Homo sapiens: one gene and its partners. The protein of the gene in region 1 interacts with the protein of each later gene in a biochemical or structural test. Each region holds a gene or a part of one and is shown in the gene's direction. Other genes may lie near its edges. The genes, in order: PRKCG, RIGI, DNAJC5 and SDC2.

Region 1 (7,839 bases):
GAGATTGTAATAAATAAAGGCACAAGACAAAAATAAAGAGAAAGCAGCTGGGCCCAGGGGACCACTATCATCAAGACGCAGAGACCGGTAGTGGCCCATAACGGCTGGGCTCGCTGATATTTATTGCATACAAGACAAGGGGGCAGAGTAAAGAGGGTGAATCTTCGAAGTGATTGACAAGGTGAAGCAAGTCACGTGATCACGGGACAGGGTGCCCTTCCCTCTTAGGTAGCCGAAGCAGAGACAGAAGGCAGCATACGTCAGTGTTTTCTTCTATGCACTTCTAAGATCAAAGACTTTAAGACTTTCACTATTTCTTCTACCGCTATCTACTATGAACTTCAAAGAGGAACCAGGAGTATGGGAGGAGAATGAAAGTGAAGGAGGAGTGTAAGCATTGAAGCACAGCACCACAGGGAGGGGTTTAGGCCTCGGGATGACTGCGGGCAGGCCTGGATAATATCCAGCCTTCCACAAGAAGCTGGTGGAGCAGAGTGTTCCCTGACTCCTCCAAGGAAAGGAGACTCCCTTTCGTGGTCTGCTAAGTAACGGGTGCCTTCCCAGACACTGGCGTTACCACTTGACCAAGGACCCCTCAAGCGGCCCTGATGTGCGCGTGACAGAGGGCTCACCTCTTGCCTTCTAGGTCACTTCTCACCATGTCCCTTCAGCACCTGACCCTATACCTGCCGGTTATTCCTAGCTTACATTAGTAATGCAGCAAAGAGTAATATTAAAAGCTAATGATTAATAATGTTTATAATAATGATTGATAATTGTCCATGATCATCTCTACATCTAATTTGTATTATGACTATTCTTATTCTAACTATTTTGTTTATTATACTGAAACAGTTTGTGCCTTCAGTCTCTTGCCTGGGCACCTAGGTAATCCTCCGCCTACATATTTCCCGGACCTCAGGAGAATCACAAATACACAAATAAATATAAGCCCTACAAAATTCCCAGATCAGGCCCGGCGGGTGGCTCACGTCTGTAATCCCAGCACTTTGGGAGGCTGAGGCGGGTGGATCACGAGGTTAGGAGATCGAGACCATCCTGGCCAACATGGTGAAACCCCGTCTTTACTAAAAATACAAAAATTAGCCGGGCGTGGTGGAGGGCACCTGTAGTTCCAGCTACTCATGAGGCTGAGGCAGGAGAATCGCTTGAACCTGGGAGGCGGAGGTTGTAGTGAGCCGAGATCGCGCCACACTGCACTCCAGCCTGGGAGACAGAGCGGGACTCCGTCTGAAAAAAAAAAAAAAAAAAAAAAAAAAAAAATATATATATATATATATATATATATATATATATATATATATTCCATGATCAGCCGGCGCGGAGGCTCACGCCTGTAGTCCCAACACTGGGAGGACAAGGCGGGAGGATCGCTTAAGCCCAGGAGTTCAAGACCAGCCTGGGCAACACAGCAAGACCTCGTCTCTATTTAAAAAAAAGTTTTAAAGAAAATTCGATGATCACAGAACCCGCTATCTGCATCTACATCCGCAAAAGCAATTGGGGAGAGATACCGCAAGGGAGGGAAGGGTTCCCCTGGAAGGGGAGAAGGAAAGGCCAGCTGGGGCACACACTGTCGTTGGATGAGGAAAGGCCTCCTTTTCATTTCTGCAGCGTCCACTCTTGAGCTCCAACCCACTCCATCGCTGTCTTCTTAAAGGACGCCTCGCCCACCCTTCTCTCCCATCCCATGCCTGAATCCCTTCTGGAAGGCATCCGAAAGAACAGCTATAGAACTCTGGGGTGATACGTTGGTTAACTCGGGAAAGAACTCAAGGACACTGGACTAGAACGTGGTGGGATTCCTAGGTCGGTTTCGGGGCCATCCCCGCCGCCTATCCTTCGCCCTAGGTCACCTGGAGGTGGCTGGAAGGCCAGTGGACTCCACATTTAGGGAGAGTGGTTACAAGAGGACTCGGATTCCCCCACCTTCCCTTCGGCTTTGGGAATCCCAGGAAACCCGCCCCGAACCCCTGAAAAGTCCCAGAGAAGGTAAGCTGGGCGTCCAGAGTCCCTCCCAGGCGCCGCCGCAGCGTCCCGCCCAGCCTCGCGGGGCACGCCGGGAGGCGGAGTTCTCGGTCGTGTCCCGAGAGTGGCTGGTCCGCAGGCTCGGACTACCAGTCCCAGAATGCACTGCGCCCGCAGCCCGGGGCGGGCCGTGGTTGCCCCTGGCAACAGAGAGGGTCTCCCGGGAGCGGGGACTGGGAAGCGCTCCCGAGCCGGGGAGGCGCAGAGCCCGACCAGAGAGAGGCGGGGACGCGGGTAGAGCGACCAAGAGGTGTGGAGGCCGGAAGAGACTGACCGCGCCGGCCCTTGGAGAGACCCCTTTCCTGAGAGGGGGCGCACAGAGAGGATGCCGAAGCCAGCGAGATCTAGAGAGAGGGAGACAGGGATTGAATCACAGAGACACTTAGAGGGAGGGAGAGACCTCAAAGACAGAGAGATTCACAGGGCCAGAGAGACACGTAGAGTGGGTCAGAGAAGAGGACAGAGGACAGAGACATAGAAAAGACAGGAGGGAGAGAGACTGAATCACAGAGACACAGGGAGAGAGGGAGAGACCTCAGAGATGGAGAGAGACTCACAGGGCCAGATAGACACATGGAGTGGGTCAGAGAAGGGGACAGAGAGAGAGACACAGAAAAGGGAAGAGGGAGAGAGACTGAATCACAGAGACACAGAGAGGGAAGTCTCTATCTAGAGACCCTCGACAGAGATTCCTAGAGCCAGAGACAGAGATTCAGAGAGCCAGAGACACAGAGAGATTCATAGAGACATATAGAGAGATTCAGAGAGCCTGAATCACAGAGATTCACAGAGCCAACGAGACAAACAGAGAGATTCATAGAGCCAGAGACACAGATTCGGAGAGTCAGAGAGACATAGAAAGATTCATAGAGCCAGAGACACAGAGATTCAGAGAGTCAGAGAGACATAGAGAGACATTCATAGAGCCAGAGACACAGAGAGATTCATAGACATATAGAGAGATTCAGAGAGCCTGAATCACAGAGATTCACAGAGCCAAAGAGACAAACAGAGAGATTCATAGAGCCAGAGACACAGAGGGATTCGGAGAGTCAGAGAGACATAGAAAGAGATTCATAGAGCCAGAGACACAGAGATTCATAGAGACATAGAGATTCATAGAGCCAGAGACACAGAGATTCAGAGAGTCAGAGAGACATAGAAAGACATTCATAGAGCCAGAGACACAGAGAGATTCAGAGTCAGAGAAACATAGAGATTCATAGAGCCAGAGACACAGAGAGATTCAGAGTCAGAGAGACATAGAGAGACATTCATAGAGCCGGAGACACAGAGAGATTCAGAGTCAGAGAGACATAGATTTATAGAGCCAGAGACACAGATTCAGGGAGTCAGAGAGACATAGAGAGACATTCATAGAGCCGGAGACACAGATTCAGAGTCAGAGAGACATAGACATTCATAGAGCCAGAGACACAGATTCAGAGAGTCAGAGAGATGAATAGATTCAGAGAGCCAGAGACACAGGGAGAGTGAATCACAGACACAGAGGGACGGGGAGATCCCCAGAAACAGAAAGAGATTCATAGAGCCAGAGAGACAAATAGAGATTGGGTCAGAGAGAAAGGGACAGAGACAGAGACAGAGAAGAGAAGAGGGAGAGAGATTGGGTCAGAGAGAAAGGGACAGAGACAGAGAAGAGAAGAGGGAGAGAGAGACTGAGTCATAGACAGGAGAGAGACCCCCCTAGCATCAGAGAGAGAGAGAGAGATCAACAGAGCCAGAGAGGGACAAGTACAGAGAAACAGATGGAACCAGAGAGATATAGGAAGAGACAAACAAAAACAGAGACGGAGTTGCAGAACCGGAGGAAGGGAGAGAGACAGAGACAAAGGCATTTATAAAGACGGGTGGAGGTGAGGAGAGAGAGGGAGAGACAGGGGCAAGCATTTAGAGAGTGACTCCCAGAGAGGAAGACAGAGACGGACTCCCAAAGAGATCAAGTTGCAGAGGGAGGGGGAGACAGAGTCACAGCCTGAGAGAGAATAGAGATTCACAGAGCCAGAGAGACAAAGACAGGGAAAGAAACAAACTCAGGGAGACAGAGGCGGAAGAATTTATCAGACGTAGAGGGAGAGACAGAGGGAGACTGATTCACAGTGAGGCAGACCAAGACCCCGAGAAGAACCACGACACCAAGACCCAGAGATGGCGACAGATACAGATGGAGACACACAGCAGAGGAAATAGAGAAATAGAAAGAAATAGAAACAGCATTTCTCGGAGACAGGGAAAAGAAAACAGATCCACTGAGAGGCAGAAACAGAGACACATCGAGAAAGCTCGCTCCAGGAATAGAGGGAGAGGGACAGAGGTCACAAGAAAGACACACGCAGGCAGAGAGCTACACAAATAATGGAGAGGCCAGGGGAGGAAATAAAGACTCAGCCGGCATCGGAGAAAGTGAGAACCTTAGCGCCCTGCCTGTCCACTGCTGGACCCCTAGCGTGGAGCATAAAGTTTGTTGAAGGAAGGAGAGGGGCAGGGTCAGACACAGGGACCCCAGGGCGCCCACAGGACACACGAGGCACCCTAGTGGGGGAGGAACGCGGGGCAGGATGACAGATTGCAGGGTGGTGGGGGGGAGCCAGGCTCAGAGGATGCCCCTCCCTCCAGCCAGCCCCCGGAGTGGGTGTGTGCACGTGTGGGGGGCGGGGAGGGAGGACATTTGTCCCGTGTCTCCGGGAGGGGAGCGCCTTTAAGCCGAAACCCCGCCCTCTCGGTCGTCCTGGCAACGCCTCCCCCAACCCGGGGCTCCCACATTTCAGCAGGTGCCGGAGCTGGAGCTCCCACCGCCGCCGCCCGTGCCTCCGGCTGCCGGCGCCCCTGCCTTTGGCTCTTCCTCCCCACTCGCCCGCTCCCCCTGGCGGAGCCGGCGCGCCCGGGGTGCCGCTCCCTGCCTGGCGCGCTCCGCACCTGGAGGTGCCTTGCCCCTCTCCTGCCCACCTCGGAATTTCCCTGTGGCTCCTTTGATCCTTCGAGTCTCCAGCTCCTCTCCCTTCCACCTGTTTCCCCCAAGAAAGGCAGGATCCTGGTCCCTGCTACGTTTCTGGGGCCATGGCTGGTCTGGGCCCCGGCGTAGGCGATTCAGAGGGGGGACCCCGGCCCCTGTTTTGCAGAAAGGGGGCCCTGAGGCAGAAGGTGGTCCACGAAGTCAAGAGCCACAAGTTCACCGCTCGCTTCTTCAAGCAGCCCACCTTCTGCAGCCACTGCACCGACTTCATCTGGTGAGGGAAGGGGGCTGGGGGACTGGGGGACGAGGGGACTAGGGGTGCAGACTCCTATCACGCCGACCCCTGTGGAAGGAAGAAGGAGGGGGCTGTAGTCCCGACTCCCAGGTTCTAGGATGGCCAGGGAACGCTGGGAGCTTCGACTCCTGGGTTTCAGTGAGGAGGAGGCTGGTTCCTGGAGTGCTGGGTCCGAGGGAGGAGGAGGCTGGAGGACAGAGGTCCTGGAGTCTTGGGTCTGAGGGAGGAAGGGCCTGGGGGGCTGGGAGCCTGGATTCCTGGGTCTGAAGGAGGAAGAAACTGGGGGCTGAACTCCAGTCTAAGGGAAGAAGGGCTGGGGGCCAAAATTTCTGGGTTCTAGAAAGAGGAGGTGGCCGGGGCTTGGACACCTGGGCCCTGCGGGAGGAGGGTCAGAGAGCGCAGGCCCCCTGTGGCTCGCAGAGGTTGGGGGTCCAGGTACCCCTTTCTGCACTGACCTAGGATCCCTGACTCTTCCAGGGGTATCGGAAAGCAGGGCCTGCAATGTCAAGGTAAGAGCTGGGGACCGGGGCTCCTGGGACCCTCAGGAGGGTGGAGGCTGGGGCCCCACAGCTGAGGCTGCTTGACACACGTGTTCTCTGGTCCCCAGAGAGGCGCGGGGGAGCCCGGGGCGGGGGGTGTGGCAGAGACACAGCCTGTGGTGGGGAGGGAGCTTTGATGGTGGGGCCACCGCGGAGGTGGTGCTGGGGGCCCCTCCCTCGGCCGGCTCCAGGTGGGGACAGATATTTGGAGAATCTGTTGCCATGGGAACATGGAGATTTGGAAAAGGGGAGCTGAAGGGGGGAAGGGGGAGGGGGCTGGAGATGCAAAGTCAGAGCCCCCCCCCACCCCAGGCTGCCGTCGCCATGACAACACCAGCCGTCCTAGGCAGGGGCAGGCCGGGTGGGGTCACCAATGGGCGAGTGGGGGCCGGGCGGGGCCGGCAGTTCTGGGGGGCGGGAGAGGGGGGCGAGTCCTTGAGCACCAGCTGCTACTGCTGAGAACAGAGTGAGTCAGGGTGGGGGGCGGGCCGGCAGCAGCGCCCCCAGACTCACTTCTGCCCAAGTTGCTGCTTCCTGGGCTGCGTCTGAAGATATTTCGGTTTTCGCTCTTTGAATCTGTCTGCCTCTCTCCTGGCTTTCTGATCTCCGTCCGTGGGCCTGTGTCTGTTTGTCAATGGGATCCTATTTTCTTTCTCTCTTTTTCCATCTCCCTTCCCTGAGCTCTGTGCTCTGTGTCTCTCTGTAAGTCTCTGCGTCTCTGTTTCTGACTCTGAGCCCATCTCTTGGGTTTCTGTCTCCTGCTTCTCTCTCTGGCCTCCGATTTTCTCTCTGTTGGACTCTCTGTGTTGAGATCCCTCTCTTTCTGGTTTTCTCAGTGTCCGAGTTCCGCTCTCTCTTTCCAATTTTCTGTCTGCTGGGGTCTCCCGCTGGACTAATCCATGCCTCCGTCTGTGTCTCTATGATTTTCATCTATAGTCTGCAGCTTTGTGGTTCATCGACGATGCCACGAATTTGTGACCTTCGAGTGTCCAGGCGCTGGGAAGGGCCCCCAGACGGACGTGAGTGCTCGGACACCTGGTTCTCCTCCTCGGGCCGTGCCCCCGCCCTCACCCCCTCGGCGTCCGTCCCAATTTCTCCTGCTATTTTTATGGCTGGGAGGGGAGGGGGGCTGGAGAGATAGGGGGAGCTATCTGGCCCAGATTCCTTGCCCTTGGCCTGGAAAGGGGGAATGCGAGGGGGACTGACAGGCTGGGGACACGGGTGGGGCACAGAGAGGAGGCCGGGGTGAGGAGACTGAAGATGGGTGCTGCCGGGGGTGGGCTGTGATCCAGGGGTGAAGGGATTTAAAAATTGAGAGCTGAGGGGCACACGGAGAAAAATATCAGTGCAGGTGCGGAGATGCCAACATAAGACAGAGGGAATCTCAGGGAGAGGAACAGAGACAGAAGAAGACAGAGACCTAGGAGAGACTGAAGCTGAGGCAGAGAGAGAGAGAGATGGAGCAGAGAAAGAACCAGGGAGAAAGAGAGGAATTTGGAGGCACCAAAAGATGGACAGAGAAACTCCAAGAGACGGAGACACAGACACCTGGAGAAAGAGACTAAAATAGAAAATGGTGGATACAGACAACAGCTTAGGAGATGCTGAGAGGAGACCCAGGGAAGTCCCACAGTACACTTGCACACATGTGCGTGCATGTACAGATGCCCCTGTCATCACAGATGTGCAGCACGCAGAGACACACAGCCTCTCCCCACCCCCTCTCTCTCCATCAGAGGCTCACAAGACCAGTCAACCCTGAGTGCCCATTCCCGTTCCCTTTTCTGCTTTATCTCTGAGCCTCAGTTTCCTCCTCTATAAAATGGGGCTGATGATCTAGCATTGACCAACAGAACTGTTTACAGTGACGGAAGCATTCTGTACATGCACTGTCCAATAGGCAGCCACCAGCTCCATGTAGCCAGTGAGCACTTGAAACAGGGCGACTGTGGCTGAGGATTAGAAATTCCATTTCGTGTCAT
Region 2 (7,033 bases), on another chromosome or scaffold:
GCTGCACATAAAGCCAATCACTGAGACAACAAGTTTTGCCAAGGCTTTAATTGGGAGCTGCAGCAAAGGAGGTAGGAGATCAGTCTCAAATCCATCTCCCTGACCCGTTGAAATTAGGGGTATGGATAGAAGGAAAGAAATATAACTAGGTGTTGGAAAATGGACTCTGGAGGGGTAAGGAAGCAATCATGATAAATGAGGGGCCTGGTGTCTCATTGTCTGGATGTGATGGTCTGATGAGTTTCAGTTCTTTTATACCTTTTGAGAGGCCTGGGGGTCCTTTTCCTGGGGAAGGAACTCAGATAAAACAAATATAAGTTTCAGCTTTAAGATCAGGAGGGTCAATTTCCATGTTTATTCGAAAGAATTGTATATGGGACTATTGTGTTGGTTTCAGTCCCCCTCTTTCTATTTATCAATTCCTGGATCATGGGGAATCTGATCCTCAATCTTTCTGGCAGCTTCATGCTGAGGAATGGCGTGGTGGGCAGTTCCATACTATGGGTGACCACGTGGCCATCCAGGAATCAAAAGTTAATCTAATACTATAGTTTTCTTCTGAGACACAATCTGTATCATTACTGTTCCCCGCTTCCACCAAAGACATATCACAGCTGGATGGGCCTACCTGCAAAATAAGCCTCAGTTACATATACTTGGCTTATTTACCCACACAAAGTGCAGCAAAAATTATTGTCCATATGGGCTCTCCTAATTGGCTTTGCTGGAACCTCTCACAAGGCCATTTCAGTCAAAGCCCTGGGAAAATAACTTGTTCCTCCAACTGTGTCCCCTTATAAAAGAAAACAGATTTTTATTAAATGTATGCAAGAAAACACATTGCCATGAACTAAGAATATTCACAAATAGTTTATAAATTCTGGAGAAATTAGGGAGAGAGAAAATGCCTCAAATTCTGTTTAAAAGGGTATACTCTACTTAATATACTGTATTCTTAAAGGTTATGAAGAGCTTAAAAGAAAAAATTCTCCAGATTCCAAAAAACAAAAATTCTCCAGACTTTTTCAAACAAAACCATAAAAAATTATTTCAGTCCCACATTAGTTCAGTCCATGCAATCAACTCCTGCTGTGTTTCATATTGGGTTAGTAATCTTTATAAACATGTCAGCCTTTTAATTAAGAGGGACTCTAATTAAGAGTCCTAGAAGTTTTCTGTATTCCAGTGGCACAGTCTCCAAAGTTATCAGAAATCTGCATTCAAGACTCCTTTTCATGAAGTCCCCTAAATAAACAAGCTCTGGACTATATCTGATTATAAGTCACTTTTTGAAAAGAATCAATGCAAAACAACAATTGCAATGACAAAAGTCTTAGGAGAGCCATAAAGACACAGTTGACAAGGAAATTTTTTTTTCTGTTGGCATACAACAATTTAACATAATAATCATCATTACTGACACCATATATTAAGACATATCAGAATTTTAGGAATCTCATATAGTCCTGCAACACATATTAATAGCACATCTATACAAATATAACCCAAAGGAAGTTAAATACCACCTCACATTTGATAATGCTGCCTGTATAATTCTAATATACCAAAGAAGCCTAACATGTCTGTCTGTATTGGAATTCAAGGAAGCTAATACACAAAAAAGTTAGTTTGAGGTTAAAAAAAACCCCCTGAATTTAGAACTTGAAATATTTGCTGTTGGGAAGTCTGTCAGTATCAAAGATTTAAGACACTTGATATCACAAAATAGGATCACAGGTCGCTACAAAATAGTTATTCATTTAGCCAAAAAGATAAAACAAACACATTTACCCTTTGATAGGCGACTCAGTTTCCCAACAATAAGGCCTAATAAAGACAGCATGAGGCCAACTAAATGTCTCTCCCTCTTCCTTTTCTTCCCCCCACAGTTCACTCAAAAGGTAAACAAATATTTTATGTCAATATTATACAAACATTTTATTCAAAAGAGAACATCAAATTTTACCTTTGTATGGTATATTTTTAATGTTAAAGCTAATTTTAATAAAACCTTATAAGCCGAATTTTAATCAGTTTGACTATAAGATAGGATTTCTGTGAAGTTTTTTTTTTTTTTTTTTTTTTTGAGATGGTGTCTGGCTCTGTTGCCCAGGCTACAGTGGTGCGATCTTGGCTCACTGCAACCTCTGCCTCCTGGGTTCAAGCAATTCTCCTGCCTCAACCTCCCTAGTAGCTGGGATTACAGGCCATGCCACCACACTTGGCTAATTTTTGTATTTTTAGTAGAGACGGGGTTTCACCATGTTGGCCAGGCTGGTCTCCAACTCGTGGCCTCAGCTGATCCGCCTGCCTCGGCCTCCCAAAGTGCTGGGATTACAGGCGTGAGCCACCACACCCGGCCTGAGTCACCAGCCCCGGCCTGAGCCACCACGCCCAGCCTGAGCCACCACACCCAGCCATCTTTTTATAACGTTTTACGATTTCCTATTAAAGAGTAGAGTAATGCTCCAAGAAAACCCTGTTATGACACAGGGGCCCAGACATTGGCCTTGCATCAGTGTGCTTTTGATGTTAATGTTTAATTTATAGAAAAACCCTGAACTAATTTTATAACTCAAAATCAGCCCTTACAAGCTCACGTGCTCACCTTTTGTGCAATAGTTCCTGGGCGTAGAGGGATTGAATGGTTTTAATTTCTAGCCCTATGTCTCATGAAAGCAGTTCATTTTGATTGTCACCTTCTCCTGAGTCTGAAGACGAGGCTTCATTTGGTGTCAGTGCTCAAGATTTAGCAGGTATTGGTGTCTTTTTTGGATCCAGGAGTCAAAGGCCTTTGAATTACTAAATAATTGTTTCCTAAGAATTATTTAATAGCATATTTATACTGCAGGAAACCTCATCATTCTCTCTAATATGTCACAAAATAAAACCCTGGGATTTGGTGCCTAGTAGTTACTGTCTGAAACACTTCAACCCATTATACAATCCATTGTATTAAAGTGGTTAGGTTACTCCTTGCATTTATCTGCTAGCATTCTAGTGACAAAACTGTGACCTAGAGCCTCAAAAATGTGGTAAGTCCTGTGCCAAACTTACCAAAGTAAGATAGTTAACTTTTCTTTCCATCATTAAAAAAAAAAATGGTAAATGCAAGTATCAGTTTTGGAAATTCAATATGAAGATAAATCTTTCATTTAAAAAGTATACAACAAAACAAGGACAAAGTGACAATAAGCACACAGTAATTTCTTTTCAGCTATTTTGAAAGAGCCTCATCATACATTTCCAAGATTGGTTTCTAGATAAAGTACTGACAACTGATTTAAGTGACTTACACCACTAGAATCTTCAAACTGGCATAACACTTGTATGTACATATTTTGTTTTCAAGTATACATGTGAAGGCCCATCAGTGATAAATGGCTTAGGATAAAAAAAACACTAGAAAGTCTTATAATTTTTTTTATGACTTAATCCAAGTAAATGTTATTTAATCTTAATAATAGTAAACACAACTAAATTAGTTTGAGAGAAAGCCCAATCAATATAATTTCCTTAAAGACAAAGCCAATTTTTTTCTGAATATTAAGACTTTGTACCCATATAGCAGTTTTGCCTCATTAAAGGAAAAGATCTGAAACCGCTATTGTTTATTGAATTGAATTACCTTGGAAATAAACACCACTTAAACATTTCTCTCACCTACTTTTCCAAATAACCAATAATAATGTACTATTTCTGTTCAGAACTTAGAAGAATAAACCTTTTATTATTTTTTGCCAGGAATCTTAAAGTTCTTATAGCTCTCTAGTTCATTAGAGGTAAGCAAAACCAAACAAATTTTAAAGGCTGGTGTCCACCAACAATTTTTGGAAGCTTGAAAAAGGTAGCTTAGGAACTTTGGATAAGTAGAGCAAATGATGAGATACTGGAAATGCATAGGAAACAAAATGATTATTCATGGAACCAAATAAAAGCCTTCCTTACATTAGAAACTAAAAGCCATCAATGGTTTTATTAATATGTATATATAAGTAAAACCTAAAGAAGAAGAAACAGCAAATAAATGCAAATTAAAAGAAAAAACAAACAGGAAACCAACCTGAAAATTTTCTACTCAGTTTAACTTGGAGGCTATAGTGTTACCCAGAGCCAAAAAAACACATGATGAATATTTTGTTCCTGATGCACAATTTAATGTCTTTAAGTTCACCAATACCACTATATATTTTGTGCAATTAAGAAATTCACTTTAGGCTGGGCGTGGTGGCTCAGGCCTGTAATCTCAGCACTTTGGGAGGCCAAGATGGGTGAATCACTTGAGGCCAGGAGTTTGAGACCAGCCTGGCCAACATGGTAAAACCCCATCTCTACTAAAAATACAAAAATTGGCCAGGCATGATGGCACACAACTATAATCCCAGCTACTCTGGAGGAGGCCGACCAGTAAGTATTATACTGTAATGATAGTATATCTATGCAGAAGAGCAAATACAGTGTGAAGCAATGCAAGCATGTAGGTGAAATTTGGTTGTTGCTATATCTGGCTTTTATCTGGCTTCATGGTTAACTATATTAAGAAAGGATTGCCAAACTGCCAATGTGTTTCTTTACAATATTTCTTATTTTACTTTCATCAAGACTAAGAGCTTTAACTATGAGCAGTGTTAATTAGCCAGATTTCTCCAATATTCTATCTGGTTTTAAGAGAATATTATTTAAGCCTTTTATACTTTGTATTTTCTCTGTCTGTACATAAAGGTAGACACACAAAGAAATAGGAAAGAAACTACATGACTTACACACACCATCTATGATATGCTTAGACTTTCTGATTTGTCCTGGATTTTCGTTCTTTTTCTTCTTCTTTTTTTTTTTTTAAACAGTCATTTTACTTTAGGACAAAAAAAATACCATTATAAGATGCTTTGTCATACAAAATTATTTTCTTTATAACCTTCCTTACCAAAAATACATCTTTATACTCATAACTTTCTCCACATCTCTCTCGTCTACTTGTTCTTTTCTACCTTGTTTCATAAGTAACCTTTCAAGTCCATAATTATTAATAAACTTTAGATAACTTCTGAGTTAGATAAAATTTTTTTCTGAATAAAAACACATTGTCTTTTGCACATTTTATATATAGAATTACATATGAACTAGAATTCTTATCCTTAGTAACAACCTTAAATTTCAGTAAAAACCTAGGAAGCAAGAAATCTTGAGCTGCCTAGCAGATATTAGTATTTTATAGATGAGAACCATTCCACAATTTTTAGAAACATGTTCCCCACATCATAACCTTTTCTTAATTGGAAATGACTCAAACATCCAATGATTATATTTCCGATTATGCCAAAAGTTCATTTACAGCATTTGACCATTTACATTTTATTTATTTTTAGCAGTTTATCTAGATTATTTCTGCATCATTTCCTTCTTAACCATTTTATAACCTGTGAATGTCAGGTGTTCACCTAAATAACCTTAAAATTAATACGTGGGCATTTTGATCAATAACTCAGAAGATTCAGCTGTTTTCATTAAACTAACAGCATTAAATTAGTCTTATAAAGAATTCACACAAATATTCACTGGGTTTATAGCTTTATAACCTGCTGCCAAACTCTGATACCTCAAATTATCTAGCTGAGACAAATATAAAGCCGAGACAAAAATGTATGCTGACAATTCTGAAGACATTTCTATTTTTATTTTACCAATAATTTTAAAGACAGCTTGTTTATTAAAGATTTACTGAAGTCATGTGAACTTGAAAAACACTTTGGACTTAATTTATGAGCACTCTTATTTATAAGCCAATTTGGTAGGTATAGTGTATAACATAGTTAATGTACATCTAGATAAACACATCTAAACATGTATACACACACAAAGATCCAACAGCTTTTACCTTGGAACTCTAGCCATGAGATAGCAATACAAACTCACGAATCTACAACCAAGTCCACATGGCTAAAATTTGTTTGCTCCAATCGGTAATCCAATGAAGGCTGTGAACCAGAATTTTGGGTAAAGCAGTTTCCATGGCAGTTTGATTTTTAGAAGCTAGATTCCAAAGAAACCTGGGGCCAAACAGCACTACAGAAGAACGTCATGTGGAAACTACTCACCAGGCCCAACCCTGCTTAAAACAGCGGCATAAAAGCCAGAATACATGGGACTCCACCTGGCTTTCCCATTCAACAGCCAACTCCAGATTCCAAAGAATATTGGGGCAAACGTAGTACAAAAGAATATTTGTTTGTTGAATTCTAATTTCCCATTACTATATTGACACATACAATCAACAAAACACAATCCGACTGCTGAAGCAATAGACAAGCCCGAACAGTGTCCAAACTGAAACAGTCGAGGTGCTTTTCTCTCTCAATCGGGCTTTATTAACCTGCAAACAGAAATTTCTTAGGAATTTTCCAAATTGAGAGAAGCCGATCCCACTGTCTGGTACCCAAAAAAGACACTAACTTGGCCAGACACAAACACAGAAATTACAAACACGCTCTCTAGAGTATCATACTGAGAGTCAGGGTGCTTCCCTTTCTTAGTCAGTTGGGCTGGTTTAACCTGCAAATGGAAGCTCCTTTTAAAATTTTCAAATTGAGCAGATCTTGCTGTCTGGGCCAAGAAAGGACACTCACTTATCCAGATGCCAGTGTCACATTTCAAAGGCTGTTCTTCCTAGCAATCAGGAACTCAGCTGGGGCTGGCAGCAGCAGGGCCAGAGAGACCAAAACTCACTTCCAGCCAAAATTGGGTGGGCAGTTGCTTAGGAGGGCTTCTGAGACTCCTAGACCACAGCAACCCAGCCACAAAAATCTGTTACTGAAGCACCAGGGGTTTGGCCTAGGTCCTCCTGGTAGCCACACAGAAAGCCAAACAGGGAGACAACAAGTATTGCCAGGGAAGAAGCCTTTAATTGGGAGCTGTAGCCAAGAAGATGAGAGATTAGTCTCAACTCCATCTCCCTGACCCACTAAAATTAGGGGTTTATATAGCAGGGAAGAAATGTAACTGTGTGGGAAAACAGGAACTCAGGAAGCAATCA
Region 3 (3,419 bases), on another chromosome or scaffold:
TCCCTGTAGAGATAAAGCTGAGGAGGAGGCTGTGTGTGATGGCTCTGGCTCGGACCAACCAGATGAGCCTCCTGAAGCCCCCTTCCCTGCCTGCCTGCTGACCCGTGGCCCCAGCTCACTCATTGCCCTCAGCAGCCACCCGAGGCTGTGCAGAAGGGTAGGTTCAGGTTGACCAGGAAGCTGCCAAAAGGGACATGGATATGAGGATACATCTGGACGTGCTTAGGAACAGGGTGCTGGTTGAGGGCCCCCAGCTGACCCCTACTGCAGATCCGCATGTGGACCATGAGCCGGCTGCCAGCACTAGGTCCTGGGCAGCTTTGTTTGTCCCACTTTTCTTTGTTTCTTCTCACTAAAATGATCACGAAGACCTTTGACAAGAGGAGAGATATGCACTGTGATATTAAATTAGAAATAATTTATCAAAATCAGACCTCTCCTAAAAGAATAAGAAATTCATTGTTTGGCCCATCCTGAAAGGTGAGGTGGCGAGACAGTGGGGTGCCTCCGTGCCGCTTCGTGCAGCAGCAAGTTCAGCCTGAGATGCTGGCTGTACTCAGCCTTTGCAATTTTTGTAGATGTAGCTTAGGACGTGAGTTATTTTTCCGCAGACTGGCCAAGAGCCAGGTTCTAAGCTTGGACCTAAGGTAGAAAGCTGCCCATCGGGGGCCCTAGCTCAGCCCCACCAGGCCCTCTGTTGGGCCTGCACACAGCTCTGTGGCTAGAACACTCCAAGGCCCTTCGGTACCCATCAGAGTGGGCCCCTTGCCAGGTGGCTTTTCAGTTACAGAGTCCAGTGGACCATTTTGTAGAACCATGCAGCTCCCTGCGGAAGGTGGGGTAGGGTGGGAAAGAGGAGCAGGTCTGGAGGTTTGTGGAACCCAGTCCCCTGCAGAATCTGTAAAACCTAATAAATCATGGTTGTGGCCATTCTCACGGTGGTGATTGTGATTAGACGACCCCCGGGAAGCCCAGACACTCGGGGCCTGGAGTTCCTCCCCCTGCCTGACCTAGAAGCAGAACCGTTTTCAGCGCTCTGCCCTGTTGGCTTTAAGGCTTTGTCTTAATTTAAGGAAAAAGATCCTCCCGGGTTTTATTTCTCTCTTTCTTGAGTGGACTGTTTCCCTATAATTAAAAGAGGTGGTGAGTCCTGGGGCAGCTTCCGCGCCTCCCTGTCCACGTGCTAACAGATCAGGACGCCCCCAGCACCCCTGCCTGCTTTTGCTGGTGGCAGTGACGGGACCCCGACTCCTCACTCTCGGGCCGCAGACAATGCTGTGAGCAAGTGTGGCCATGGGCACAGAATGTCCCTTTGGACGCCGCTGCTGGGGGCTGCCAGGGGCCCTCTGGGGTCGTGCTTTGAGGCCCGTCCGGTTCACGAGGGGGTCCGGGCAGCACTGACTGCTTCCGACCTGCAGGAGGCGTAGGAGCGGCCCTGCGGGCCCTTTCACGGCAGCTGCTGCTGTATAGATTTGTCTCCACTCAGTGACGTGGGATTTTTTTGTCTTCCTTTTGGCTTTATTTTTAAACTGCTTTAGATATTACTGCTCAGTGTTTGTGAACTTTCCTAGTTCTCTATGTTGTTAGTGCAGCCAGCACCCAGTGGGGACCTACTAGAAAAAGGAACTGGCATGCACACGTGCCCAGCAGGAAAAGCTTCGTCTTCACGTCGGCTGCTGCCATCCAGAAGAGGCCCTGGAGCCTCACGCCGTCGAGGCTGCTCTCAGGCGTTCTGTTCCGGGCGAGGCTTGTGCTGCAAGGAAGGGCACCAGCATGCAGGCTGCCACTGGAGGGTCCGGGTGCTGCGGGCAGAGTTCAGCGCTTGTCCACCCTCCCTTAGCTCTGACTCAGTGCATCCTACTGTGGGGACATCTCGTGAGGGGACACGAAATGACTGATCTCACCCTTTCCCAGTATTCAGAGCTGTGAACCCCTGTGGCGCAGGACTGGCCTGTGTCTGTTATTTTGGTTGTAAATCATTCTCCTGTGGAATTGGCAAAAGCTACATTTTTACTGTCCTTACCAGCAACAGTTTGCGTCGTCACATGCTGTGAGTGTGGGCTGTGGTGTGTCCGTGTGTGTACATATGTGTATATGTATATATCACGCAGCAGGAGTGTCATTCATGCTGCTGTCCCCTGGTGAAGTGACAAGTACAATTAAAGGTGGCTCTGAAATGGCCTCTGGTTTCTTGGGAGTCGGGCAGGGACCTGCAGGAGGCTTTCCCAGCAGGTGCACAGAAGGAAGCGCTGAGCCCACTGTGTGCAGAGGGTGTGTGCCCAGGGCACTGCCACGGCCCCCACCAGCATTGGCCTCTGCTCTGCAGGGTGGGGTGCCCATCCTGGGGGCTGTGTGTCATGCTCACCTGACCCAGGTGTGTGTCCCGGTGTGAAATCGAGGAGGGGACTGGAAGCCCTTCCCTGCCTTGAAACATGAAAGCTGATTTTCTGAGCAGCAGATACGGTCAGTGGCAAAGCTGCATCTGAAGGGCGGCCTGGGAAGGGGCCCTGTGCTGGCCCCGGGTCCGCCCCAGAGGAGTCCACACAGCACCACCTCCAGAAGGGGCTGGGCCCGGGGTCCTGCAGGCGGCACCTTTTGGTAGAGTTTGTTTCCCTGGAAAATGGGGAAAATGTTTCAAGCCAGGTGAGGGGGGAAGTTAACACTGAAATATGTATTGTTTTTAAAAATCAAATGCACACGCATGGAAGCTGCTTGTCCATGCACTGGTTTTGTCACTGGCGTCCTGGAATCCGACCGTGTTGGGGTGCAGGCGCTGTCAGACTCCGGCTGATCCTGGCTCGAGCACACACATCTAAGGGCCAGGCTGGTTCCGCATGGTGATCTCCGTCTTGTATGTCTGAATGTTGGCCTAAAATAAAGATTACTGTTGTAAAATAAATGTTTTCACTGCGGACCCCACGTATGTCTTACTCGCTAGTCCCGCAGATCCCTGGTTTTGGAGAGCAGCAGCTGATCTCAGCCCTCCACACCCCTTGCGGCTGGAACCTTGCTTCCCTCCTGCCTGGTCCAGATGTGGATAAATGCCCCCTCCTCTTGATTGTGTTTTCACCTCCGTTTTCTAAATACCAAGACTGGAGCAAAGAGGCCAAGCGTGGTGGCTCATGCCTATAATCCCAGCACTTTGGGAGGCCAGTGTGGGAGGATTGCTTTGAGCCCAGGAGTTCAAGACCAACCTGGGCAACAGTGAGATCGTGTCTCTACAAAAAAGAGTTTAAAATTATCTGGGTGTAGCCGTGCCTGAGGTCCCAGCTCGTCAGGAGGGAAATCACTTGAGCATGGGAAGTCCACGCTACAGTGAGCTGTGGTCACACCACCGAACTCCAGCCTGGGTGACAGAGGGAGATCCTGTCAACAAACTAACAAAAACTCAGAATAACGTAACAAACATCTTGAAATCC
Region 4 (7,687 bases), on another chromosome or scaffold:
CAAGTGACCCTCTTACCTCAGCCACCCGAGTAGCTGGGACTACAGGTGTGTGTGCCACTGCTGCACCTGGCTACATATTTTTAAAGAGCATGCTGTACACCATAAATATATACAATTTTTATTTGTCAATTTAAAAAATAGTACCATTTTACATAAAATTAATCAAGGTTAGACTTTCCTGTTCAACTGGATATATACAAATGCAATGCAAAATAACTTGAAGATACCTCTGTGGTACCTTCCTGGATTCATACATCCAAATCTATAACATTCAAATATGGCTCTTTGGATATGTATTTTAGTCCATAAATAATGTTTTCTTTAAACTTTATCTGATTTTAGAATGAAATTCATCATGTACTTTAGTCACAGATTCATGACTTGAGAACAACTCTTAGTTTAAAAATGTATTAACTCTAACAAGGTTCAAGAAAATTCATGTGCCTACCCAGTGAGTACCTGAGTTGCAGCAGGTGATCCATACATATTTGTTGACTGAATGTCAAATTTTGCCAGCCTTTAAAGAACCATACCACACTGTTAGAAAAACTGACATGAAGGGCCAAGTGTGATGGCTCACACCTGTAATCTCAGACCCTTCGGAGGCCAAGGGGGAGGATCACTTGAGTCTAGGAGTTCGATGCCAGCCTGGGCAATATAGTGAGCCCTCGTCTCTAAAAAAAGAAAAAAAGAAAAAAAAGAAAAAGAAAAACAGAAGTAACTGTTTTATCTCCTGTCTTATTTTATGTATTATACACTTCCTTGATTTTCCTGTGTCCTCCTATCCAAAACTGTAACAATTTTGTTCAACATTAGCACCATATCATTTTATGAAACTCAAATCAGCCAACTTCTCTGGGAAGGGGTTGATGGAGGTGAATAAAGAGAACAGTGGAAAGTTTGAGGCTGAAAATAGACTTTTTTTTTTTTTTTTTGGAGACAGAGTCTCGCTCTGTTGCCCAGGCTGGAGTACGGTGGCATGATCTCGGCTCACTGCAACTTCTACCTCCCGGGTTCAAGCAATTCTCCTGCCTCAGCCTCCCAAGTAGCTGCGACTACAGGTGCCCGCCATCACACCTGGCTAATTTTTGTTGTGTTGTTCTTAGTAAAGACGGGGTTTCACCGTGTTGCCCAGGCTGGTCTTGAACTTCTGAGCTCAGGCAATCTGCCTGCCTCGGCCTCCCAAAGTGCTAGGATTACAGGTGTGAGCCACCGCGCCAGGCCTGAAAATAGATTTTTTTGGATTGCCTGTAGATTTTGGTCATGGCCTCAGCTCACTTGCCAGTATTAGCGATGGCTCATTAATGGTTGGCTGGATGGATATCCTATTCCTCTCAGCTTCTATCATCTTTCAAGTGAATTTCATAAGAGCCAATCCTACCAAATTGATTTCTAGCCTGGACTCCTGGTAACAGTCCAGGGGGTGCCAAGTGGAAGAACAACCGAGAACAACAGAATGGCATCTTTTTTTTCCGCTATCCCCTACTCTGACAACTCACCTCAGGACAGAACACCTGTTTATCCACGGTTGTAATGTGGTATCATTTGTTACCGTAGTGACAGAGTCCGATGTGTCAGTTTAGGTTAAAAACTGTCTTTAGTAGCTTTCATTTCTATTTTTTCACTTGTCTGGTTCTCTTTATTTTTTATTTGTTTTTACATGTTTGCATCTTAATCTCTATGTTGTTTATTTTTAATATTTTCTCCTGAGACTCTTGAAGTGTGGTAATTATTCTTTTAGCAATCAATGAAGCTATTTGGGAAGTGATTGGTTAAGCTGTGCCCCTCAAAGCATAGCCCTCAAAACCTGAGGACTTGAAGTATATTTGCAAAGAACCTTTGGTTCTAGTCACAAGCTATACTTAGTGAATTAGATATACTACACAAAATTCTGCCAAATTTTAGTCCCCATCAGTTTTTTAAACATTTCCAATTAGCAAAACACACAAACAGGCCTACATCGTTTGCGAATTTAGACAAATCCTGACTAATACCAGCGGACCTCCCCTGACTTCTGTCCCCATCCCCACTCAGCATGGGTGACCTCTTTGTAGCCAGCTCTTGTGTAAGTGCTTTTTATACTGTCAGATTATCCTTCTTGCCACAGCTGTTAATAAATCTGAACACAAGATCTTGAATATTTGTTTTCATCTCCTTAATATTGTGTCACTCAAAATGGTACCAATTCCCTTATTATATATACTCTCAATGGAGTATTTATCATCTTTAAAGAAACAAGTCACTGAGCATCTCATCAACACCAAGAGCCTTGGGGTGTGCCTTCAGGGCAGCAAACAGATAATATCCCTTCAACACGTGTATCCACTTATTCATTTTTTATCACTGTCTGCCCAAGCTGAATCAGAGAGCATTCACCACGCTTCTTGTTACATGGGTGCCCCAGTAAACAGCAATAACTGTGAGAACCAGCAAATCAGTGGAGTGCACTTCCTGTTTTACTGGAATTCCAATTTATTTGATGAATACTTAACTGTTGGGGACAATGGAGGTGTGGCCTTGCCTGAAGGCTGGCGAGTAGACGAGGCCTCTTATGAGGACAGAGCTGGTATTTTATGGCTCTTTGCATGTATTTTGCATTGCTGCTTTTCCTTTGGAGGCCTTTTTAAGAAGTCTCCCCATCTCATGAACCTCTTCAACCCACAGACTCCATCTTAAAAATAAGGGCACTAGGCTGGTGGCTCACGTGTCTAATCCCAGGACTTTGGGAGGCTGAGGCAGGCAGATCACTTGAGCCCAAGAGTTTGAGACCAGCCTGGGCAACAATGGAAAACCCTGTCTCTATAAAAAACACAAAAATTAGCTGGTGTGGTGGCCTGTGCCTGTAGTCCCAGCTACTTGGTAAGCTGAGGTGGGAGGACTGCTTGAGCCTGAGAGGTAGAGGCTACAGTGCAGGCCACTGCACTCCAGCCTGGGCAAGAATGAGACCCTGTCTCAAAAAAAAAAAAAAAAAAAAAAAAGGCTGTGGTTCATTCTTTCAAAAGCTAAGTGGAGCCCACATTGGCACAGATGCCAGCTACAGTGTCTGTGGAATCAGAAGCATCATCTGATGTTACAACTTCTGGCCTATTGCTCTTTTTCTTCTTTCTCCTTTGCCTACTCTTCTATTTCTCCATATTACCTTTTTGTTGGCCAATGCCTTAGACTTGCTCATGAGCATTTGTAGGTTTGGTAGCTGGCACACAAAACCAAAGGAATAAGTGTCTCCAAGTTTGAGTTGTAATTCTCCAGTTAAATTTCTTTCTTTGAGATTTATTACAGTAATAGGTTACTAAGACATTTAATTCTCACTGAGGGTATGACTGTATTTTATTCTAATACTGAGTTGAAAAATTACCATGGCCTCATATCTATATATCTACATTGGTGTATTTTAAAGGCTCACAACTCTTATACGGTATAAATTGAGCTTTAGAGCAAAATTTATTCAAGATAATATTTATCATGTGTCTTTATGTACCAGGAATGAGAATACAATGGTGAACAGACAGAAAAGTCTCTGGTTTCCTGTAGTGGGCATTCCAGGAGCAGAATGGCGTCATAATTCATTTACTCTATAAGTCAGAGAGAAAAATGATGGCACGAACTGCAAGGGATTTGTGTGTAAAATTTGTGACAGTAAGAAAAAGAAACTGGAAGGGAATACGCATTTGCCATGTTCTATAATATGCCACAGACATTGTAACAAAATATTTCATGTCAGCTACTTCCATTTAGGAAATACATGTTCATTATTTTCTTCAAACTAAGAATTACTTTATCCCTCTTTTCTTTGAAGTTATCTTAAATCTGTTATTATTCAGGGTCTCTATCCAACTTCTCATCAAATTACCCTATTTGTAGCTTCCAAACGTTAACACCTATCTGCTAAAATGGAGCCTATAAAAAGCCTTAGTGGCATAAACTGTGTGTGAGGGAGAAATGGTATTTAAGCCCTTAATGAAGTTAGGAGCTTTCAAACTGTTGCACTTTGGGTTTACAGGATCCTTCCTCCATGTCCCTTTTTTGGGGGTGCGGAAGGATTTGGGAGAATGGGAAACACTCTCACTATATATTTATTACATTAATTATCTTCTCTTTTAAAATGCAATTTTCATGAACTGGCGATTTATGAACACTTCACATTGCTTGAAAGCATCTTACACTTTTTTTTTCCCTCAACTCACAAAGCAGTTTCTTTCTACTGGTCGAATTCTCAAGGCAGAAAAGCTACATACGTCTCTCGTTTCTTCACTAATTGTTCTCTAGAAAAGGGAAAGTGAAGAAGGGAAAGAGAAAAGACAACGGGGAAGAAAAGAGCATAGAGGAGAGAGGAAAAGTGGGGAGAGAAAGGAAGAAAAGGACTGAGAAAACGCAGGAGCCCTGGCTTGCCGGTGAGCAGAGCCGGCGCAGCCACAGCGCGGAGCCGCGGCGCCCACTGGTCCTCGGAGCTGCCAATCGGCGTGTAATCCTGTAGGAATTTCTCCCGGGTTTATCTGGGAGTCACACTGCCGCCTCCTCTCCCCAGTCGCCCAGGGGAGCCCGGAGAAGCAGGCTCAGGAGGGAGGGAGCCAGAGGAAAAGAAGAGGAGGAGAAGGAGGAGGACCCGGGGAGGGAGGCGCGGCGCGGGAGGAGGAGGGGCGCAGCCGCGGAGCCAGTGGCCCCGCTTGGACGCGCTGCTCTCCAGATACCCCCGGAGCTCCAGCCGCGCGGATCGCGCGCTCCCGCCGCTCTGCCCCTAAACTTCTGCCGTAGCTCCCTTTCAAGCCAGCGAATTTATTCCTTAAAACCAGAAACTGAACCTCGGCACGGGAAAGGAGTCCGCGGAGGAGCAAAACCACAGCAGAGCAAGAAGAGCTTCAGAGAGCAGCCTTCCCGGAGCACCAACTCCGTGTCGGGAGTGCAGAAACCAACAAGTGAGAGGGCGCCGCGTTCCCGGGGCGCAGCTGCGGGCGGCGGGAGCAGGCGCAGGAGGAGGAAGCGAGCGCCCCCGAGCCCCGAGCCCGAGTCCCCGAGCCTGAGCCGCAATCGCTGCGGTACTCTGCTCCGGATTCGTGTGCGCGGGCTGCGCCGAGCGCTGGGCAGGAGGCTTCGTTTTGCCCTGGTTGCAAGCAGCGGCTGGGAGCAGCCGGTCCCTGGGGAATATGCGGCGCGCGTGGATCCTGCTCACCTTGGGCTTGGTGGCCTGCGTGTCGGCGGAGTCGGTGAGTGGGCCAGGCGGAGGATGCGCGCGCCGTTTAGGGTGTTTGAAGCTACGAGAGGAGCCCGCAGGGAATAGGGGAGCGCCACCTGGGGAACCCCCAGTCCCCAAGTATACACCGGAGATCCGCTGGGACAAATGCGCTCGTCCGGTCACCCTTTCCCCCTCTTCCCTTCCTCAGAAAAGCGCTGCTCGCTGGCGTTACCCCGCGGTCCGCGGGAATGGGGGCACCGAGAATTGCGGTTTGGTCTAGCCGCAGAGGCCCCTGAAGTCACTCCCAACTTCTTCGCCCTCGGCGGGTCTTGCTGCGTGGTCTGGGAAGGACGGAGGGGAAAGGGTGGCAGGAGGGGGGAGCCTGGGTCGGGCCCGCGAGGGAACGGCTCCACTCCGCGCGCTCCTCGAGACCAGGGATGACCTGGAAACTTCGGGGTCCCTTCCTCCGCACACCATCCCCCCCGCGCCAGCTTTCCTGTTTGACTGCATGCAAGTTCTGGGGAGATGGGGGCCAGATTTAAGAGACCCGCGAGTGTCCAGAGAGAAAAGTTTGCAAAAGTTCTTTTGTTTGATGCTCCCTGCGGCTAGGGCGAGGTAACCGACACTACGTGGAATCGCAGTAGGCGATCCCTCAAGGGGATACTGGGGGAGGCACGGAACGCGTCCGAAAATGCTGGGACGCCGGCCACTGGATTCCCAGTCCTGCGGCGACCCCCTCCTCGTTGAGGGGTGGAGGTTGCACCGCGGGGCGTCAGGGACGGGAGGACATTTTCATAGGAGTTACACGGGAGTGCCGCAAGCAGGGCGAGGCGGGGTACGTGTGACACGGCGCTCGGCTTCGGGTCGCCTGGCCGCTGGGGGACAGAGGCTTCCCTCCCGCCACGCTCGCCCTCTCTGGCCCTGGCGGGGCGCTTCTGGGGCCGGGAGGAGTCTCGTCTCCGGCGGAGCGCCTGCCGGCACCCAGCTTCCCTCCCCCGCCCTGGCGGTGGGAACTTGATTTCTCCTTTTGGTCGCGCTTCGGGGGCTGGAGCTTGTTTCCCCACGTCGCCCAATGAGCGCCCTCTAAAGGGAACTGCCTCCTTGGCCTCCTCTCGTCCGCAGCTGCCTCCACCTGGGCGCCAGGAGCTCTGTCGGGCCAGGTGGAAGCTTGAGCACCCCAGATTTCGTCTGCAGCCTCAGTGCCCTCTGGGGTCTCAGGGAGTGCGGCTGTTTCTGGCCCTTCTGGTTCCCCACGTCCTCTCCCTTTGCCATTTAATAACGTGTCAATTTCTAATTAATTGAATGGTCTTTTCAAAGACAAATTATATCATCTTAAGGTCTTTTAGGTAGTTTTATGAGTTTGAGTCTCCCTCCCCCCCTTTTTTGTGCTGAGGCTAATTTAGGACTGGGAAACCTCTTTGGCATCGAGCGGCAGATGGACATTTTTAATCAGTGTGGGAGCCTCTGTGTGTGCTAGCAGATCCCCATACGTTCTTTGTGGTTGGAGAGCATGTAGAATTGGAAACTGTACAGACTACATGAGTATTTTGGGTGCTCAGGTTGTAAAATAGAACTCCCAGCCTTATCAGTGTTTCCCTTTGGCAAATGATGGTTTAATCCGTTGGTATTAGTTATCTCCCAGCCAGTTAGGATGAACTTTGGCTCTTTGTACACCAAAAGGCAGCAGTTCTCTTGTTTATTTCAGATGAGCGTTGTTGCTCCTCTTGTTGCAAAACAGGGCAAAGGGACTTCATCTAATAAATTTCAAGAGCCTGCCTAAAAAACTGCACATGGTTAAGGAGGCCCTTTTTTTTTGCTGAGTCTTATTCATGGATTTGCTAGGAAATGTTACTGTTTTGGGATTCTGGAGAAAGAATGTTTCTGTCTTCTGCTCCTCTGGGTTTTTGCATAAATCTACCAGTGCTCCTTAAGGAAGTTTTTTGGCCGAACTATATACCTGTCCTCCCCGGTGACAGCTTTCCCCTGAACTGTGTATCTTTGGGGTTCTAATATTTCTCAATTTGAACCAGAACTGGATGCTTTCCGAGTGAACTGCTTCATTGTGATAGACACTGTTTTCAGTAATTGGAAAATCATCCAAAAAGGGTGATTAGATATTTATAAAATGTCAACTTAGAGACTAGCAGAGAATCTTTGTTAGGCAGTGAGTCAGTCTTTCTAAATAGAAGCTGTTTCAAGGCCCAGAATGGCTAACAGTCCATTTAAATTACTTTTCAGTCTCCGTTTGTTTCATGTATAGCAGCAAAAATATAAATGAAGTCAAAAGACTGAATTTAAAAAAAAATTAGCAATTACAGAATATTATTTCCAGGACTTTGCATTTTAATTTGAAAACTGCAACTGTTTCCTGGGATTTAGAAGTAGTGATTTGGGTTTAAAGTCTCCCTTTAAAGGAAGAAAGGAAAACTGCCTACAGTTAGTGAATTCTTAAGTTTTATACTTAGCTCTGGGGGTAAAAAAGAGGTTCTCAGGAACTAAGGCTCAAAACTGCCTATG

What was found.
Region 2: of the proteins of PRKCG (region 1) and RIGI, one has a biochemical effect on the other in vitro, tested with the Homo sapiens proteins (one study listed by BioGRID).
Region 3: of the proteins of PRKCG (region 1) and DNAJC5, one has a biochemical effect on the other in vitro, tested with the Homo sapiens proteins (one study listed by BioGRID).
Region 4: of the proteins of PRKCG (region 1) and SDC2, one has a biochemical effect on the other in vitro, tested with the Homo sapiens proteins (one study listed by BioGRID).

The regions. Positions count from the first base shown.
Region 1 is NC_000019.10:53,877,368-53,885,206, forward strand, and holds the start of PRKCG (protein kinase C gamma type), read left to right. Parts: upstream 1-4,829; 5' UTR 4,830-5,127; coding exon 5,128-5,297; intron 5,298-5,795; coding exon 5,796-5,827; intron 5,828-6,793; coding exon 6,794-6,876; intron 6,877-7,839. UniProt on the Homo sapiens protein: Calcium-activated, phospholipid- and diacylglycerol (DAG)-dependent serine/threonine-protein kinase that plays diverse roles in neuronal cells and eye tissues, such as regulation of the neuronal receptors GRIA4/GLUR4 and GRIN1/NMDAR1, modulation of receptors and neuronal functions related to sensitivity to opiates, pain and alcohol, mediation of synaptic function and cell survival after ischemia, and inhibition of gap junction activity after oxidative stress.
Region 2 is NC_000009.12:32,516,193-32,523,225, reverse strand, and holds part of RIGI (antiviral innate immune response receptor RIG-I), read left to right. Parts: intron 1-7,033.
Region 3 is NC_000020.11:63,933,113-63,936,531, forward strand, and holds the end of DNAJC5 (dnaJ homolog subfamily C member 5), read left to right. Parts: 3' UTR 1-2,899; downstream 2,900-3,419. UniProt on the Homo sapiens protein: Acts as a general chaperone in regulated exocytosis. Acts as a co-chaperone for the SNARE protein SNAP-25. Involved in the calcium-mediated control of a late stage of exocytosis. May have an important role in presynaptic function.
Region 4 is NC_000008.11:96,489,131-96,496,817, forward strand, and holds the start of SDC2 (syndecan-2 precursor), read left to right. Parts: upstream 1-4,682; 5' UTR 4,683-5,141; coding exon 5,142-5,201; intron 5,202-7,687. UniProt on the Homo sapiens protein: Cell surface proteoglycan which regulates dendritic arbor morphogenesis.